Regions from separate parts of the Homo sapiens genome. Here region 1 is linked to region 2. Evidence: fine-mapped expression QTL. A gene starts in region 2. The other region holds a variant in brackets. All regions are shown on one strand. Distances are from middle to middle. Region 1 overlaps DNAJC12 (DnaJ heat shock protein family (Hsp40) member C12). Region 2 holds the start of DNAJC12 (DnaJ heat shock protein family (Hsp40) member C12).

Evidence for each region. PIP is the estimated chance that this variant, and not a neighbour inherited with it, causes the effect.
Region 1: its variant is fine-mapped to the expression of DNAJC12 in adrenal gland (GTEx, PIP 0.99).

What each region holds. Positions count from the first base shown.
Region 1 is chr10:67,811,196-67,819,195 of GRCh38, reverse strand. It overlaps DNAJC12 (DnaJ heat shock protein family (Hsp40) member C12), which reads left to right. Exons shown (of 5, transcript NM_021800.3): 3 at 7,533-7,672. Among named protein-coding and RNA genes, the nearest start is that of DNAJC12, 23 kb to the left of the region's middle. RefSeq lists an enhancer at 1-311. The variant A/G (reference allele first, on the strand shown) is at 3,371.
Region 2 is chr10:67,832,665-67,845,335 of GRCh38, reverse strand. DNAJC12 (DnaJ heat shock protein family (Hsp40) member C12) reads left to right here and starts at 7,148. Exons shown (of 5, transcript NM_021800.3): 1 at 7,148-7,402. The coding sequence starts at 7,325. It also overlaps the pseudogene DNAJC19P1.

The sequences.
Region 1 (8,000 bases), 24 kb after region 2:
GCGCCCGGCTAATTTTTTGTATTTTTACTAGAGACGGGGTTTCACCTTGTTAGCTAGGGTGGTCTCAATCTCCTGACCTCGTGATCCGCCCGCCTCGGTCTCCCAGAGTCCTGGGATTACAGGCGTGAGCCACCGCTCCCGACCCCTGGCCCAAACATTTCTTTAGGATTCATATTAACTACCTGTCTGAACTGGAGTTAATATTAAGATAGGTGTCCTAGCATAAAATTATAAAAATTTAGATCGGGCTCGGTGGCTAATGCCTGTAATCCCAGCACTTTGGGAGGCCAAGGTGGGTGGTTCACCTGAGGTCAGGAACTTGAGACCAGCCTGACCAACATGGTGAAACTCTGTCTTTACTAAAAATACAAAATTAGCCGGGCGTGGTGGCACATGCCTGTAATCCCAGCTACTTGGGAGGCTGAGACAGGAGAATCGCATGAACCCGGGAGCAGATGTTGCAGTGAGCCGAGATCGCGCCACTGCACTCCAGCCTGGGTAGCAAGAGTGAAATTGTGTCTCAAAAAAAAAAAAATTATAAAAATTTGATAAACACTTAAAAACCACCACCACCCCAGGTTATTCTTTAACTGGGTTCTTTTCAGTGAAGCATGACTGTGAGTTGTTTCTCTGTCCCTGACAAACAATTTTTATTCAGGATACATGATGAATCACTGTGTAATTATTGCCATTTCTAGTTGCCATAGTGATGGGGGTTTTCATGTATGGGCTGCCTCAAGGCGTCTTGTTCAGAGAAACAGTGGACTGTGTAAATATTGTTTAAAATGAAAAGGTACACAGACATCAATATCTTCTCTAGGCAGGCATGCATTTGATATATGATTCAACCTTTGGGTAGAGGTTGTTTTTTAATCTATTTAAGCATCCGTTTACTCAGTTTTCATTAATACAACTTTCTGAACGTTTATGTGGATCTTTACACACTTGGATGATTAAGGTTACTGATGAAAATATTTCAAATATATATATGAGACAGGATCTCGCTCTGTCTCCCAGGCTGGAGTGCAGTGGTGCGATCTTGGTTCACTGCTGGCCTCAACCTCCCAGGCTCAAGCAGTTCTCCCACCTCAGCCTCCCAAGTAGCTGGGACCACACATGTGCGCCACCACACCTGAGTAATTTTTTTGTATTTTTAGTACAGACGGGGTTTTGCCATGTTGCCCAGGCTGGTCTCAAACTCCTGGACTCAAGTAGTCTGCCTTCCTTGGCCTCCCAAAGTGCTGGGATTACAGGGATAAGCTGCTGTGCCTGGCCAGACTATTTCAAAATCTCTTTTTTTATTTTTTATTTTTTTGGGGGGATGGAGTCTTGCTCTATCGCCCGAACTGGAGTGCAGTGGCACAATCTCAGCTCACTGCAACTTCTGTCTCCTGGGTTTAAGTGACTCTCTTGCCTCAGCCTCTTGAGTAGCCGGAGCTATAAGTGTGTGCCACCACGCCCAGCTGATTTTTTTTATTTTTAGTGGAAACGGGGTTTCACCATGTTGGCCAGGATGGTCTCAAACTCCTGACCTCAAGTGATCCACCTGCCTCGGCCTCCCAAAGTGCTGGGATTACAGGAGTGAGCTACTGCACCCAGCCTCAAAATATCTTTAAAAATTCACTTGGATACTGAAGTTTAGCTTGACAGAAATTCAGAATGTAATGGAAAGATTTTGAAATGTATCTAATTAAGGTGAAAAGCTAGACAGTAGAGGAACTTTGGGTAGGATAAATTAAACTTATATCTATACCTTTTTCGTCCACTAAATATAGTCTCAACTGTTGCCATTGAAATTACTGATGTGGTAGCATGATGGAGTAGTGGATATAAACACAGGCTTGTTTGTCTGGATTGCTCCCATTCCACTTACAGTCTAGTTGATCTTGGGCAATCTCTCCAAGCCTCAGCATTCTCGTAGGTAAAACAGGTAGACTAGTAGTATATTACTTCATGCATCTGCTGTGAAGATTAAATGAGGAGTCCTGCATGTGGAAAGTGCTTAATGGATGCTGGCAATTTTAATTCAGTGGATTGTCTTTCCTTGTTTTATGTAGCAGCCCAAGGTAAACATTTAACGTGATGGGATAGTTTTCTCTTTTTATAAGTAATGATTAGATCATTCTTTTATTCCCTGAAAAAAAAAAAAGTAAATCTAAGGCCACCAGAAATCCCTTCCCCTCTCCAGATGTGGGTGCTGCAGACAGGACTGACTTTGCTATAAAAATAGTGTCACTGAGCCCCAGAGCTCCTGGCTGGTGCTCATGCCAGCGCTCTGTGTGGGTGACAGTAACTGTTTCAGATTAGCACTATATTAACTTCTCCATGGCCATGAAGAAAGTAGACTTAAGGCCGGTGTGATGGCTCACACCTATAATCCCAGCACTTTGGGAGGCCAAGGTGGGCAGATCACATGAGGTCAGGAGTTTGAGACAAGCCTAGCCAACATGGTGAAACCTCGTCTCTACTAAAAGTACAAAAAATTAGCTGAGTGTGGTGGCGGGTGCCTGTAATCCCAGCTACTGTGGAGGCTGAGGCAGGAAAATCACTTGAACCCAGGAGGCGGTGGTTGCAGTGAGCTGAGGTTGTGTCACAGTGCTCCAGCCTGGGCTATAGAGAGAGACTCTGCCTCAAAAAAAAAAAAAAAAAAAAGAAAGTAAACTTCAGACTAAGAACCTGTGGAATGGTATTTTTGTTACTGATGTGCAAACTTCAAGGACATTTGGATATTAGAAGAAGGGGAGCAATTTGTCCTTTGTTAACTAACATCTTTTAATGTCTCAATTTTTTTTTTACTTTATAGTCTTTACTGTTTTTCCCCATATAATAAAAATAACATAATTAATAAATAATGTTGGAAGAAAAAGTTTGCTTTTATCTTTCCCTGATAGAGAACCACTATTAACAGTTGGTATATTTTCTTCCAGATTTTTTCAAAGCATATTTTGACATCATATTATTATTTCTTAAGTAATTGTAAATGGCATACATTTAAAATGTGACTGTTGTAATACAAATTCTATTGCAAAATATGAATTTAAAATAACCTCTATATTTTGAAGGTAGACCCAGGAGTTAAATCAGAATGTCTCGCAAGACTTCCAGCATCATTTGCTCCTATAAGCTTACAAAATGAGATCTCTCTTCCCAGAACTGGCAAGTGTTTACCTTGTGTGGCTCATTTGATTAGTTGCTACATTAATGGAAAAATATAAACCCAAACTCACTTTTGTTAAATGTGGTGAAGTGGATGGAACAAGAGAAAGGTCACATTATAGGAAAGATAAGGTTTCTTTTTTCTTTCTGCTTATCAACTGTTGTTGAGGGACTTACATCAGAATAATTCTAAGCAGCTTCTTTCATTCTGGGA[A/G]TTCTAGAAAGCGAAGCCAACAATGATGTGAAAAGAGAAGGTGACTCACAGATAAATACATAAATCTTTACAAGCCCCACATGAGTAGCAACTGGCATGTGCATCCTTGGTGGTAATTTAATAAGCTTTTTATTCCTGTTGGAAAAAGTGACGTATCATTTATACAATGGGACATTTACATTGTCGTCAGCAACAGGAAGATTTGCTCTCGCTGGACCAAGCTGCTATGGCAAGATACTTTTATTTGTTCATTTGTTTTCCTGTAGCTTTCAATAGCCCCATCTTTTTTTTTCTTTTCTTTTTTTTTTTTTTTTTTTGAGACGAAGTATTGTTCTTGTTGCCCAGGCTGGAGCGCAATGGTGTGATCACGGCTCACCGAAACCTCCACCTCCTGGGTTCAAGCGATTCTCCTGCCTCAGCCTCCCAAGTAGCTGGGATTACAGGCATGCACCACCACGCCCAGCTAATTTTGAATTTTTAATAGAGATGGAGTTTCTCTATGTTGGTCAGGCTGGTCTTGAACTCCTGACCTCAGGTGATCCGCCCACCTTGGCCTCCCAAAGTGCTGGGATTACAGGTGTAAGCCACCGTGCCCAGCCTCATTTAGCATATTTTCAAGACTCATTCATGTTGTAGCACATATCAACATTTCATTCCTTTTTATGGCTGGATGATAATTCTTTTAGGTGGATATACCACATTTTGTTTATCAATTCACAGTTGATGGACATTTGTGTTATTTTCACTTTTGGCTATTATGAGTAATGCTGCTATCATATACAGGTTTTTGTGTGGACATATGTTTTCATTTCTCATGGATATATACCTAGGATTATAATAGTTGGGTCATATGGCAACTCTGCTTAATATTTTTGAAGAACAGCCAAACTACTTTTCAAAGTGACTATATACCACTTTACATTCCCACCTGTCATGTGTGACAGTTCCAATTTTTTCACATTCTAGACAATTATTATCCTTTAATTTTAGCCATCCTAGTAGGTATAAAGTGGTATCTCACTATGGTTTTGATTTGTATTTCCTGAAGGACTAATACTGTTCAGGATATTTTCAGGTGCTTGTTGGCTATTTGTATATCTTCTTTGGAGAAATGTTCATTCAAGCCCTTTGTCCATTTTGCATTTGGGTTATTTGTCTTATTATTGAGTTGTAAATGTTCTCTATAAATTCTAGATATAAGTACCTTATCAGATATATTATTTGCAGATATTTTTTCCCATTCCATGGTTTGTCATTTCACTTTCTTCATGGTATTCTTTGAGGCACAAAAGTTTTAATTTTGATGTAGTCCAATTTATCTATTTCTTCTTTTGTTGCTTGTGCTTTTGGTGTCATATCTAAGGAGCTCTTGCCTAAGCTGAGGTCACAAAGATTTATTCCTATGTTTTTTTTTTCCCAGTTTTTTATGGTTTTAACCCTTACATTTGGATCTGTGATCCATTTGAGTCAATATTTGTTTATAGCTTAAGGTAGAAATCTAAATTCATGCTTTTTATATATTGATATTTAGTTATCCTAGCACCATTTGTTGAAAAGACTATTTTTTTTCTTCATTAAATTGTCTTGGCACTCTTGTTGAAATCAATTGACTGTAAATGTAAGGGTTTGTTTCTGGATTCTCAATTCTATTCCATTTATAAGTATGTCTATCCTTATGTTAGTACCACACTGTTTTCACTACTGTAGCTTTGTAGTATAAGTTTTGAAATTCAGAAGTGTGAATTCTCCAACTTTGCTCTTATTTTTTTCAAGAGTTTTTTTTTTTTTTGGCAATTCTGGGTCCCTTGTATTTGCAAACAGATTTTAGGACTAGATTGTCAATTTCTGCAAAAAAGGCAACTGGGATTTTGATAGAGATTATGTTGAATCTGCAGATCAGTTTGGGGGGTATTATCATTTTAGCAATAGTAAATCTTTATGAACGTGGGATGTCTTTTCATTTATTTAGATCTTCTTTAGCTTCTTTTGACAATATTGTGTAGTTCCTTCTTTTGTTCAATTTTTTAAAAATATTATATTCTTCTTGAAGCTTTTTTTTTTTTCTTTTGAGACAGAGTCTTGCTCTGTCACCCAGGCAGGAGTGTAATGACATGGTCTCAGCTCACTGCAACCTCCGCCTCCCAGGTTCAAGTGATTCTCCTGCCTCAGCCTACTGAGTAGCTGGGATTACAGGCGCCTGCCACCACACCCAACTAATTTTTTTTTTTTTTTGTATTTTTAGTAGAGACGGGGTTTCACCATGTTGGCCAGACTGGTCTCGAACTCCTGACCTCGTGATCCGCCCACTTCGGACTCCCAAAGTGCTGGGATTACAGGCATGAGCCACTGGGTCCGGCTCTTGATGCTCTTATAAATGGAATTTTCTTAATTTCATTTTCAGATTGTTCATTGCTACTGTGTAGAGACACCACTGATATTTGTATATTGATTTTTTATTTTTTGGAGACGGAGTCTCGCTCTGTCATCTAGGCTGGAGTGCAGTGGTGTGATCTTGGCTCACTGCAACCTCTACCTCCCAGATTCATGAGATTCTTCTGCCTCAGCCTCCCAAATAGCTGGGATTACAGGCGCCCACCGCCATGCCTAGCTAATTGTCTTCTTGCTGTGTTTTCACATGGGGGAAACAGAGTGAGCGAGTTGTCTGGGTTTCTTTTATTAGGGCACTGATTCCATTCGTGAGGGTTCCACCCTCATGATCTAATCATATCTCAAAAGCCCCATCTCCTAATACTATCATTTTGGGAGTTAAGAATTCAACATATGAATTTTTGTTTGTTTGTTTTGAGATGGAGTCTTGCTCTGTCGGACAGGCTGGAGTGCAGTGGTGCAAACTCGGCTCACTGTAAGCTCTGCCTCACGGGTTCCAACGATTCTCCTGCCTCAGGCTCCTGAGTAGCTGGGATTACAGGCCTGGGCCACCGTGCCTGGCTACTTTTTTTTGTTTTTTTTTTTTGAGATGGAGTCTCGCTCTGTCGCCCAGGCTGGAGTCCAGTGGCACAATCTCGGCTCACTGCAACCTCTGCCTCCCAGGTTCAAGCAATTCTCTGCCTCAGCCCCCGAGTAGCTGGGAATACAGGCGCCTGCCACCACCCCCAGCTATTTTTTTTTTTTTTTTTGTATTTTTAGCAGAGATGGGGTTTCACCATCTTGGCCAGGCTGGGTCTTGAATTCCTGACCTCGTGATCCACCCACCTTGTCCTCCCGAAGTGCCGGGATTACAGGCCTGAGCCACTGCACCCGGCCTGTATATAAATCTTGTATTCTGCTCTGCAGAAAGTTTTTACTTCACTGAGGAGCAGAAGAGACTTTGGAGGTGTTTCTAACAGAGCCATAAAAGGTTTCTATTATATACCATCTGGTCAAGTAGATTAGTGACAAGCTACCATTTGTCCCAGCATCTACCATGTTATTTATTATACTTAAAGCCTCCCGTTTCTCTTACGACAAAAAGCAGGCCAGCATCCTTAACATGACATCTCAGGCCCTGGTTGATTGAGCTATTGTCTGTCTACTCTACAGCCCCATCCCTCATCGTTCTTTCCCTAGCCTTGTGTCCTCCAGCCACACTGGCAATTACTACTTCCTCTAAGTCACCGTGCTCCTTCCTGCTTTATAAGGACAAACAAGATCATGGATGTAAAGTGCTTGGGACAGTTTATCCACTCCCTGTATTGTGCCTCAGTCATGTCTTTATAGTCTTTATAGTCTTCAGTTTTATAGTCTTTATAGTCTTCAGTTTTACTGTCCCTCTTGCCTAATTACTGCCCTGTTTCACACCCAGCACTAAAAAAGGTAGTTTTCTTCCTATAAGGTGGAATAGTATTTTTTCAATGTTTACAAATGTTTCTTTCCCCTGCTAATAATGTCTATTATTCACATCTGTGTCATCAGCACCGGGAGTAGCCTCTGGCACATGACTGAGGCACAATACAGGGAGTGGATAAACTGTGCCGAGCACTTTACATCCATGATCTTGCTTGTCCTTATGATACCCTTTACAAAAGCTTAATGAGGTAAATTGGCCCAAGGTCACATAGCTATTAAGTGGCAGTCATGGTTTTAGTAAGAGCAGTTGGATAGTTTTGGAGTTTAAAATATCCTCTCCGAGAGAGAAGTGCTCATTTCTTGATTTGTTTTCCAGTGGAGACTTTTCAGAAACTGCAGAAGGCAAAGGAGATTCTGACCAATGAAGAGAGTCGAGCCCGCTATGACCACTGGCGAAGGAGCCAGATGTCGATGCCATTCCAGCAGTGGGAAGCTTTGAATGACTCAGTGAAGACGGTGGGTTTCTCGCTGGGTGCGACGTGAATTTGTGAAGCTCAGGATGCCCATGGATTAGACTCATGTAGTAGCTTAAAGAGTCATTAGGCGATAGGAGGGAGAAAACCAAGAAGTTAGCAGAGTCTGGATATAATTCAGTGTCCGTAAATCCCATGAAGAGAAGCTCATCAGAATAAAGGCAATGAATTTGTGCCAGAAGAGCCTGTGACTACATTTCTTTCAATCTCTTTGGCTGTTTGTTTCAGTATACACACTCCCTGTTATTGCTTACTATTTTATGAGCTCTAATAAATGTACTTCTCAAGTTGCTCATGAATTGCTGAGTTTT
Region 2 (12,671 bases):
TGCTAGGATTACAGGCATGAGCCACCGCGCCTGGCTGACCAGACTAATCTTAAAAGCTCTAAGTTTAACATGTTATTCACATGCTCAAGAACCTACAACAGTTCCTATTGCATCCATACTCACTCAGTGTCTTCCACCTGATCATCAAGGCTTTCTACATTCTGGCCCAGGTCTTCTGTTCAATCCCAGTATTAAAGGCATTCTCTCCAACATACCTTGCCATAAGGTCATTTTCCTTACCTTTAACTGAACACGCAATGGACATTTCCATCTCTGTATGATAGCTTATGTGTTTTGCTCCTTTCTCCTGCTTTTCATTTATTTTGTGAGTGCTTCTATGAATTCCTGGGTTAAAAAGTTCCTAAAAATCACATTGTCTTAGGCCATACTTGCATTGCTATGAGGGAATACCTGAACCTGGGTAATTTATAAAGAATATATATATATTTTTACTTTTCATTGAGACAGGGTCTCACTCTCTCACCCAGGCTGGGGTGCAGTGGCATGATTGTGGCTCACTGCAGCCTTGAGCTCCTGGGCTCAAGTGATCCTCCCACCTCGGCCTCTGGAATAGCTGGGACTACAGGCATACGCCACCATGCCCAGCTAATTTTTGTATTTTTTGTAGAGATGGGGTTTTGCCGTGTTGCCCAGGCTGGTCTCGAACTCGTGAGCTCAAGTGATCCACCTGCCTCAGCCTCCCAAAGTGCTATAACTACAGGCATGAGCTGTGACACTCGGCCAAGAAAAGAGTTTTAATTGGCTCGTGGTCCTGAAGGCTGTACAAGCATGCAGCCAGCATCTGCTTGGCTACTGGGGAGGCCTCAGAGAGCTTTTACTCATGGCAGAAGGCAAAGCAGGAGCAGGAATGTCACATGGCAAGAACAGGAACAAGAGAGTGAGGGGGAAGATGCCATACCACACACTTTTAAACAGCCAGATCTTATGAGAATTCACTCACTATTCTGAGGACAGCACCAGGAGGATGGTACTAAACCATTCATGAGAAATCTGGCTCCATGATCCCATCACCTCCTACCAGGCCCTAGCTCCAGCATTGGGGATTATGATTCAACATGAGATTTAGAGGGGACAACATCTAAACTGCATCATTCTACCTTGACCCCTCAAATCTCATATTCTTCTCACATTGCTGAATACAATTATCCCCTGCCCATAGTTCCCCAAAGTCTTAATTCATTCTAGCATTAACTCAAAAGTCCCAAGTCCAAAGTCTTATCTGAGACTCAAGCCATGTTCCTTCCACCTATGAACTTGTAAAATAAAAGACAAGTTATTTACTTCCAAGATACATGGAGATACAGGCATTGGGCAAACATTCCCTTTCCAAAAGGAAGAAATCAGCTAAAAGAAAGGAGCAACATGCCGGGTGCTGTGGCTCATGCTTGTAATCCCAGCACCTTGGGAGGCTGAGGAGGGTGGATCACCTGACGTCAGGAGTTGGAAACCAGCCTGGCCAACATGGTGAAACCCCGTCTCTACTAAAAATACAAAAATTAGCCGGGTGTGATGGCACATGCCTGTAATCCCAGCTACTCAGGGAGGATGAGGCAGGGGAATAGCTTGAACCTGGGAGGTGCAGGTTGCAGCGAGCCGAGATTGTGCCACTGTACTTCAGTCTGGGCAACAGAGCAAGACTCCACCTCAAAAAAAAAAAAGGAAAAAAAAGAAAGGAGCAACAAGTCCCAAGCAAGCCTGAAACCCAGCAGGACATTCATTAAATCTTAAAGATCCAAAATAATTCTTGACTCCATGTCTCACGTCCTTGGCACACTGCTGTGAGGGGTGGGCTCCCAATCCCTTGGGCAGCCCTGCCCTTGTGGCTTTGCAGGCTGCTCTCCTGGGTTGGAGTTGAGTGCCTGTGACTCTGTGACTTTTCCAGGTGCAGGGTGTGAGCTGCCAGTGGATCTACCACTCTGGGCCGGGAAGGTGGGGGCCCTATTCCCACAGCTTCACTAGGCAGTGCCCCAGTGGGGACTCTGTGTGGGAGTTTGTATTAGGCCATTCCCACATTTTTATAAAGAAATACCTGGCCAGGTGCAGTGGCTCATGTCTGTAATCCCAGCACTTTGGGAGGCTGAGGCAGGCGGATCACAAGGTCAGGAGTTTGAAACCAGACTGGTCAGTATGGTGAAACCTTGTCCCTACTAAAAATACAAAAATTAGCTGGGCATGGTTGCTTGTGCCTGTAGTCCCAGCTACTTGAGAGGCTGAGGCAGAAGAATCGCTTGAACCCGGGGGGTGGAGGTTGCAGTGAGCCAAGACTGCGCCGTCGCACTCCAGTCTGGGTGACAGAGCAAGACTCCATCACAAAAAAAAAAAAAAAGAAAAAAGAAATACCTAAGTCCGGGTGCAGTGGCTCATGCCTGTAGTCCAGCACTTTGGGAGGCCAAGGTGGGTGGATCACGAGGTCAGGAGTTCAAGACCAGCCTGGCCAAGATGGTGAAATCCCATCTCTACTAAAAAATACAAAAAATTAGCCAGGTGTGGTGGCAGGCGCCTGTAATCCCAGCTACTCAGGAGGCTGAGGCAGAGAATTGCTCGAACCCAGGAGGCAGAGGTTGCAGTGAGCTGACATTGTGCCATTGCACTCCAGCATGGGCGACAGAGTGAGACTCTGTCTCAAAAAAAAGAAAAGAAAAGAAAAGACATACCTGGGACTGGGTAATTTATAAAGAAAAGAGATTTAATTGGCTTATGGTTCTGCAGGCTGCACAGGGAGCATAACACAGGCATCTGCTTTTGGGGATACCTCAGGAAGCTTGCAATCACAGCAGAAGGTGAAGGGGGAGCAGGCATCTCCTATGGTGGGAGCAGGAGCAAGAGAGACAGAGAGTGAAGTGATACACACTTTTGAACAGCCAGATCTCAGAGAAGTCACTCATTTTTGTGAGGACAGCATCAAGAGGATGGTGCTCAACCATTCATGAGAAATCCAGTCCCATGATCTGATCACTTCCCACCAGGCCTTACCTCCAATACTGAGGATTACAATTCAACATGAGATTCAGGCAGGGAGACTTTCCAAACTATGTTAAAGTTCCAACCTCCCATTTCCCCTCTGCACTGCCCTAGTAGAGGCTCTTGGTGAGGGCTCTGTCCCTGTGGTAGGCTTCTTCTTGGGTACCCAGGCTTTCTTATATATTCTCTGAAATCTAGGAGGAAGCTGCCAAACCTCCTTCACTCTTGCATTCTGAACACCTGCAGGCTTAACACCACATGGAAGCCACCCAAGGCTTACAGCCTGCACCCTTCTGAGCTGTGGCCTGAGCTGTACCTGGGCCCCTTTGAGCTGAGGCTGGGGCTGAAGTGGCTGGATGCAGGAAGCAGCCTCCCATAGTGGTACAGGGCAGCAGCACCCTGAGCCTGGCCCCCTAAATCATTCTTTTCTCCTGGGCCTCTAGGCCTGTGATGAGAGGGGCTGCCTCTTAGATCTCTGAAATGCCTTTGAGGTTTTTTTCTCATTGTCTTGTCTATCAGCCTCTGACCTGGCTCCCTTTCATTTATGCAAATCTCTTTAGCAAGTGGTTGCTCTGCAGTCTGCTTAGATTCTTGCCCTGAAAATGGGTTTTTGTTTTCTACCACATGGCTAGGTTGCAAATTTTCCAAACTTTTACATTCTGCTTTCCCTTTAAATATAAGTTCCAACTTTAAGTCATTTCTTTGCTTCTGCATCTGAGGATAGGCTGTTAGAAGCAGCCAGGTCACTTCTTGAACACTTTGCTGCCTAGAAATTTCTTCTGCCAGATACCCTAAGTCATCACTCTTAAGTTCAAACTTCCACAGATTCCTAGGGCATGAATACCATATAGCTTTGTTCCTTGGTAAGGCATAACAAGAGTGACCTTTATTCCAGTTCTCAATAAGTTCCTCATTTCCATCTGAGACCTCATTAGCCTGGACTTCACTGTCCATATCACCGTCAGCATTTTGGTCACAACCATTTAACCAGTCTTGCAGGAGTTCCAAACTTTCCCTCATCTTCCTGTCTTCTTGTGAGCCCTCCAAAGTCTTCCAGCCTCTGCCCATTACCCAGTTTCAAAGCTGCTCCCACTTTGTCAGGTATCTTTATAGCAAGGCCCCACTCTTTGGTACCAATTTTTTGTGTCAGGCCATTCTTGCATTGCTATGAAGGAATACCTAAGACTTGGTAATTTATACTGAAAAGACGTTTAATTGGCTCACAGTTCTGCAGAATGTGGAAGCATGGAGCCAGCATCCGTTCAGCTTCTGGGTAGGCTTCAGGGAGCTTTTACTTATGGCAGAAGGTGAAGTGGGAGTAGACATGTTACATGGTGAGAACAGGAGTAAGAGAGCCAGGGGGAAGATACCACACACTTTAAAAACTTTTAAGCCGGGTACAGTGGCTCACCCCTCTAATCCCAGCACTTTGGGAGGCCACGGCGGGTGGATCACCTGAAGTCTGGAATTTGAAACCAGCCTGACCAACATGGAGAAACCCCATCTCTACTAAAAATTCAAAATTAGTCGGGCATGGTGGCACATGCCTGTAATCCCAGCTACTCAGGAGGCTGAGGCAGGAGAATCACTTGAACCCAGGTGGAGGTTGCGGTGAGCCAAGATCACACCATTGCACTCCAGCCTGGGCAACAAGAGTGAAACTCTGTCTCAAAAAAAAAATTATATTATTAATATAAAAATAAGGACAGAGTCTCACTATGTTGCGCAGGCTGGTTTTGAACTCCTGGGCTCAAACAATCCTCCTGCCTTGGTCTCTCAAAGTGCTGGGATTACAGGCATAAGCCACTGCAACTGGCCAATACCACACTTTTTTGTTTGTTTGTGTTAGACAAGGTCGTGCTCTGTCACCCAGGCTGGAGTGCAGTGGTGTGATCTCAGCTCATTGCAGCCTCCACCTCCTGGGTTCAAGCAATTCTCGTGCCTCAGCCTCCCAAGTAGCTGAAATTACAGGCATGTGCCACCACACCCAGCTAACTTTTTTGTATTTTCAGTAGAGATGAAGTTTTGCCATGTTGGCCAGGCTGGTTTCGAACTCCTGGCCTCAAGTGATCTGCCTGCCTCGGCCTCCCAAAGTTCTGGGATTACAGGTGTGAGCCACCATGCCCAGCCCTAACATTCCATTTGTTTAGTCATCCGTTGATGGACACTTGCATTGCCTCCACTTTTTGGCTATTATGACTAATGCCTTGATGAACATGAGTATATAAATATCTTTTCAAGTTCCTGCTTTCAATTCTTTTGTGTATTTACCCAGAAGTGGAATTGTGGGGTCACATGGTAGTTCTATGTTTAATTTTTTGAGGAACCACCATACTGCTTTCCACCATGGCAACTTCACATCATTAAAAGGCCATTTATCAGTGATTTAGATCAAGATATTGTGATCTAATTTTTTTTTTTTTTTTTGAGATGGACCCTGGCTCTGTCACCCAGGCTGGAGTCCAGTGGCACGATCTCGGCTCGCTGCAACCTCCGCCTCCCAGATTCAAGCAATTCTCCTGCCTCAGCATCCTGAGTAGCTGGGACTACAGGTGCGTGCCACCATGCTTGGCTAATTTTTGTATTTTTAGTAGAGACAGGATTTCATCACATTGGTCAGGCTGGTCTCGAACCCCCGACCTCGTGATCCGCCCGCCTCGGTCTCCCAGTGCTGGGATTATGGCATGAGCCACCGTGCCTGGCCTTAAAATTCTATATAGAACTTTTAGCAAGACAGCATGTACAATGAAGGATTAGTAAAAAATGGTGTTTCAGTGCTTTTTCTTGCTTCTCTTCAGAAATAAACCTTTAAAAAGATGTATATAGGTGGGCTAAAAGAAAAACTATTTTTTCCCCTCAGGTGGGGGAATTTAAAGTGTTAAGGGCCAGGCATGTTGGCTCACATCTGTAATCGCAGCACTTTGGGAGGCCAAAGTGGGAGGATCACTTGAGTCCAGGGGTTTAAGACCAATCTGGGCAATATGGCGAGACCCTGTCTCTCTGAAAAATGAAACAAAAAAAGTGTTAAGGCAGTCAAAGTGTTGTGTCCCTGACCACTCACCTTGTTCTCTAAATCCCAGACCTGAACTGTGTTTCTTAGGGCCAAAATGAACTGAAACATAAATTGCCTGGACCTACCTCAGACTAGAGACACTCCTGAGTCTGGAGAACCAACCCAGGAGAAATAGCACAGCCATCTGACCCGAGTTATCATACAGTTCTTCTCATTGTCCTATTTTATTTTCTCTAAAGCACAAATCACTATTTTATTTTTTTATTTTTTGAGATGGAGTCTTGCTCTGTAGCGCAGTCTGGAGTGCAGTGGCACCATCTCGGCTCACTACAGCCTCTGCCTCCTGGGTCCAAGTGATTCTTCTGCCTCAGCCTCCCAAGTAGCTGGACTACAGGTGTGGGCCACCATGCCTGGCTTACAAATCACTATTTTAAATGATCGTGTTTTTTTTTTTTTTTTTTTTTTTTGCATGTTTTTCAGCTGTCTTCCTCCATCAGAGCGTAAGCTCCATAAAAATCAAGACTGTGTTATTGGCTGGGCGCTGTGGATCATGCCTGTAATCCCAGCACGTTGGGAGGCCGAAGCAGGCAGATCGCTTTGAGCTCACGAGTTCGAGACCAGGCTGGGCAACATGGCAAAACCCCCTCCTCTTAAAACATAACAAAACAAAAACCAAAAATTAGCTGGACATGGTGCTATGTGCCTGTGGTCCCAGCTACTAGGGAGGCTGAGGTGGGAGGATCGCTTGAGCTGGGGAGACAGAGGTTGCAGTGAGCTGAGACTGCACCACTGCACTCCAGCCTGGGCAACAGAGTGAGACCTTGTCTGAAAATAAACAAATAAAAAATAAAATTAAGTATTTTAAACACTAAGAAAAGCTCCCATTATCCTTATTAACACATCCTAAGATTTTACCACATTGCTTCACATTTTTTTTCTTTTTTTTTTTTAAAGGATAGAGACAAAAATATATAGGAGATGGAGAAGTGGCTAATGTGGCAAGTTTCTGAAAATAGACAGTCTTTATTAACTCATAAGACAAATGGTTCACATGCATCTCTTATATAAACTCAAACTACAGATCCCAGGCAGCACTGCAATAATAGACACGTGGACTGTTCTTTTCTTCTCTGTAAACAGCCAATGAGAGGCAGAGTTTACAAAGGTCTAGGATGACATCTGGTGTATTGACTGTGGCCAGTCTTAAAGCTAGTTTTTGCTATGTGGAACATGCTGCTCTAATTCAGATTTAAAGAGTTTCTTCCTGTTAATTCGAAGCTCACTGTGCCTCTTGTTTCCGAGGGAAGAAGGACTGATTAAGTCATCTAAATGGATGCAATACTGAATTACAGGTCAGAAGATACTGAAGATTACTACACATTACTGGGATGTGATGAACTATCTTCGGTAAGACAGTGGATAATATTTTTATCACAACAGTATTCTTTTTCACAATAGTATTTCAAGTTTTTATTTAAGGTTTTAACTTTGAATTTTTAGTCACATTGCCTACAAACCTAACCTTGTGTTGTTTTAAAGCACTTTTGGCTCAGAGAAAGTTAAGAATTTAAATGTATGTTGGGATTTTACTTGAATAGTGTCCTATGGGAATTTTACGGAAGCTTCTGATTAAATATGTGTATTCTGGCACATGGCCATATGCTGTTTCACAATATAGTATATTAAAAATAAATATTTGAAATTTTATTGTAATTTCTGATGGCAGTGTTTCACAGTATATATAAGCTATACCTTTATTATGGTGACTCATAATTGAGGTGAAATGAAATTTCTTATAAAATTAGGGATTTTAATATATTTTATTAAAATGTGTACTCCTATGTGAGCAGTCAAAATAGAAACAAAGAAGCATCCCTTTATGTTAATATTTCAAATTGTGTGACAGAAATTACTTCTTGAAAGGGTGGCTTCTGAAACAAAACATGTGAAAACTCTGTAGCTGTTCACTGGATCTGTAAGAAAACAAAATTTTTAAAGTTCTCAATAAACAATTATAAAGGTTGTAGAGGTTTTTTAAATTATGGAAAAATCATTTATAATTCTCTCTCCCAAGGATAACAGTATTAATATTTTGGCATATTAATCTCCACTATTCTTTCTATGTATATTCTTTAAAGACCTGTTTGGGAGGATATTATATGTACTTGTTGATTCCTGCTTTTTACCCATTCGTATTATAACAAGGAATTTTCCATGCTATTAAACTTTCCTTGTACACTTTTTAGTGGTTGCAAAATATTTTATTTTGCTGTGTTACCACAGTTGAATTATTCTCTTATTGTTAAATATTTTATTTCCAATTTTTCAATATTTCAAATAATGTTGAGATTAATATAAAATATATTCATTATTAAATTATATATTATTAAATCATGTTATTAGGATATATTTATGTTTTATAATTAATGTATTTTATTTTATTTATTTTTATTAAAATCTAAGTAGTAAAATTAACATTGTAAAGCAAAATGTTTTTATATTTATTGTTGTTTCATAAAGGCAGTAGTTCATTAATAAAATGTGCTTAGTTTTGTTTTAAGAATAGAATGCATTACTGGACACAAAGGATTAAAATCTCTATTTTTGCCATGCTGAGGAAGTTATCTTAGACACGTTGAAATTAAAAAAACTGCCCCGCCCCCAGAATAGCTTATAATGGTCTTTTAGTTGCATATTTCTTCTCAAGAATGTGTTATTCTTGTTTATGTTGGTGGTGATTTGCTTATAGCAATTGAGAAAGCTTATTACCATTTTTACCATGTGTTATTCACAGTTGAAATTATACTATTATCAAACAATTTTTGAAGGAATAATTTAAAATCAAAGGAATATAATTTAACTTGATAAGGCTGACAATTTGGATTTAAAAAAATACATGCTAGCTTATACAGTAAGGGTCATTATATCTCCATAATCTTGTGACCTATTTAGTCAGTCCTTTTTTTTTTTTTTCAATTTTACTTTAAGTTCTGGGATCCCTGTGCAGAATGTGCAGGTTTGTTACATAGATACACATGTGCCAGGGTGGTTTGCTGCACCTATCAACCCATCATCTAGGTTTTAAGCCCCGCATACATTAGGTATTTGTCCTAATGCTGTCCCTCCCCTTCTCCCCCACCCCCCGACAGGCCCCGGTGTGTGATGTTCCCCTGCCTGTGTCCATGTGCTCTCATTGTTCATCTCCCACTTATGAGTGAGAACATGTGGTGTTTGGTTTTCTGTTCCTGTGTTAGTTTGCTGAGAATGATGGTTTCCAGCTTCATCCATGTCCCTGCAAAGGACATGAACTCATTCTTTTTTATGGCTGCATAGTCAGTCTTTTGAAGTTATGCTGTTGTCTTTTCAATCTACATAGAAGGAGGATTCATTTTGGACAGCCTTACAGAAAATAATCTCGTTGTTAATGTGTAATATTCAAAATATGGTTACCAGGTGGAGTCATACTTCCTTGTCTCAACATTCCTTTTACTGGATGTATTTTACTGGTCTGTCAATGGCATATCATATCTAGATAACAATTATTTATTTTTAATGAAATGTTTGTCATAATATTGTCACTTCTTTATATATATGTGTGTGTGTGTGTGTGTGTGTGTGTGTGTCATTTTTTCTCTCTTTTTTTTGTTTTTTTGAGATGGAGTCTCACTCTGTTGCCGGGCTGGAGTGCAGTGGTGCAATCTCAGGTCACTGCAACCTCCGCCTCCCAGGTTCAAGTGATTCTCCTTCCTCAGCTTCCTGAGTAGCTGGGACTACAGGCACATGCCACCATGCCTAGCTAATTTTTGTATTTTTAGTAGAGACGGGGTTTCACCGTGTTGGCCAGGATGGTCTTCATCTCTTGACCTCGTGATCTGCCTACCTCGGCCTCCTAAAATACTGGGATTACAGACGTGAGCCACCGCACCTGGCTTTTCTCTTCTTTTTATAGGTATGCTTCTCATTTCAAAAATATTTTTATGACATTTTTGACTAATATGACATTTCCTTTACTTGATTTGTATTGGATAGATTGCCTTTACTTCAGGTATTCCTTCATTTGATGCTCTAAAATTAACCAGAACTCATCATGCCCGAAAGCATTTTAGCTGTTATAATTTCAAAACAATTTGATATTCTAATTTTACTTATCACAATTGAATTGAGACACCCACATAATACTTTTGCTTTGGTATATAGTTCTTACAATTTAAAGTTTGTGCTAGAAATTGATTAAAGTAAAATTATGTATTTTCTAATGGTTCTAGAGCAGTAATCCTGAAGCTTTTCCTTCTCAGAGAGTTTTTAAAATTATCTTTCAGAAATTGAAAATACAACCATGAAAACAAGCAATGAGACTAATTTTCTAGTTTACATAATGACATATATAAATTATGGGAGGATTTCCATGTTATATAGAAAACAATATATTCCCCATTTCAAAACAATTTAACAAAGATTGATTCCAAGACAGTTAGCCTTTCTCCCTATATTGGATTTTTTTTTTAAATTTTTGTTTCTTTGAGATGAAGTCTCACTGTGTTGCCCAGGCTGGAGTGCAGTGGCAGGATCTCAGCTCACTGCAGCCTCCTGGGTTCAAGTGATTCTCCTGCTTCAGCCTCCTGAGTAGCAGGGATTATACGTGCATGCCACTATGCCCAGCTAATTTTTGTATTTTTGTACAGATGAGCTTTCACCATGTTGTCCAGGCTGGCCTTGAACTCCTGACCTCAAGTGATCCGCCGCCTTGGCCTCCCAAAGTGTTGGGATTACAGGCATGAGCCACCGCGCCCGGCCTCTATTCCTCAGTTTTCTAACCTGTAAATGGAAGTAAATAGTACCCACCTCACAGAGTTGTGGGGATTAAATAATACGTGATATATAAAGTACTTTGAACAGTGCCTGGTGCAGAGCGCTAAGTTGTGGTGGTTGTGGTTGTGGCTGTTGTTTTGGCCCCCACAGTGTTACTGTGCACTTGGAACTTAGTACACTTATCCTATCCTTGAGTTTGCATTATTTTTAAGATGTTTTATTTTGCAATAATTTTTGACTTACAGAAAAGTTGTAAAAATAGTACAACAGAGTTCCTATATACCCTTAACCCAGCTTCCCTTTATGTTAACATCATACCTAATGAAAGTATAATGATCAAAATCAGAAATTAAAAAAAATTATAGCTCTGAGGCATTTTATTATAAAAGCTTGGTACTCATATACATAAACTAAAATGAACTTAAAATTCATCATACATTTACTTCATTTTTTAGCTTGACCTTCTAGTAAATTTCTAGCTTCACTGATTTTGGCTGCTATGATTTAAGAGTATAATTTATCAATGAGCATCTCTTATTTTCCCTTTTTTGGCAGTAGGGCTTACCCCTAGCATTAATGCTGCTTCTTGTTTTGTCATTTTGGGTTCAAACTCACCTCAGTAATAGCCACCACTGAAGGCAGATTTTGATAGACTTTGAAAAACTTGCTTTACTTGAGGCTCCATGTGCTCCATGGCTTGCAAAACATAATGGCCTGCAAATCCTGCAGCAGCAATGGTCAGTCCAACTGCTACCATTGTACTGGCCATGGCTATAGCTGGGCTCCCTTGCCTCTACCGAGAGCCTGGATCATCCCAGCCCAGAGATCATGGCCCAAAACTGCACACCTTTACCAGAGTGACGCAGCCACCGATCGCAAGCACAAACCACCAAAAAATCAGAAAATTAACATTGCTATAGTTAACCCTACCATGGTCCAGCAAACATTTTTTTGTAAAGGACTAGATAGACAGAGTCAGGACTAGAATGAGGCAAGTAGGGTGTGTAGGATGCAAAATTTAAGGAGGCACTAACATTTAGGGTTGCGCATGTACAGAAATTTGAGAGAGACAGAGAGAGAGAGAGAGAGAGAGGGAGAGGGAGAGAGAGAGGATATTTCCTTAGACCTAGGTGTCCTGCTTGCCTCACCTAATGCTGATCCTGGCATAGCAAATATTTTAGGCTTTGCAGGCCTTACAGTCTCTGTCCTAACTACTCAGCTCTGCCATTGGAGAAAACAGCCATAGACAATATAAGTGAATGATCTTGGCTGTCTTCCAATAAAACTTTAATTAAAAAACAGGCAGCAGCAGGCCAGAGTCAATCAATCCCTGATCTAAATTATAAGTCTTATCTAATTTCATCAGTTTTCCTAATAATGCCCTTTTTCTGTTCTAGGATCCAAGCCAGGATCCCTTATTACGCTTAACCCTTAATGACCTCCAATCTGATGCTTTCTTCTACCTTCTTTGTCTTTCATGACCTGGACAGTATGAAGACTACTGTCAGTATTTTGTAGAATGTCCCTCAATTTGACTTTGATATTTTCTCATGATTAGATTGAGGTTATGCATTTTTGGAAAGAACTCCTCAGAAGTGATGTTGTGCCTTTCTTAGTATCTCATGTGGGGGTGCATGAAATGGATGTGCTTTATTGACCTTGAGCACTTCGTTAAGGTGATGTCTGTCAGGTGTCTTCTGCTAGGTTTTTCCAAGGTAGGGTTATTATTTTTCCTTTTGTAATTAACAAATATCTTGGGGAAGGTACTTTGAGACTGTCCTGTTTCTTCTCAAACTTTTACTCACTAAGTTTAGCATCCTTCAGTGGATCTTGCCTGTAACAGTTACTACTATGGTGTTTGCCTAAT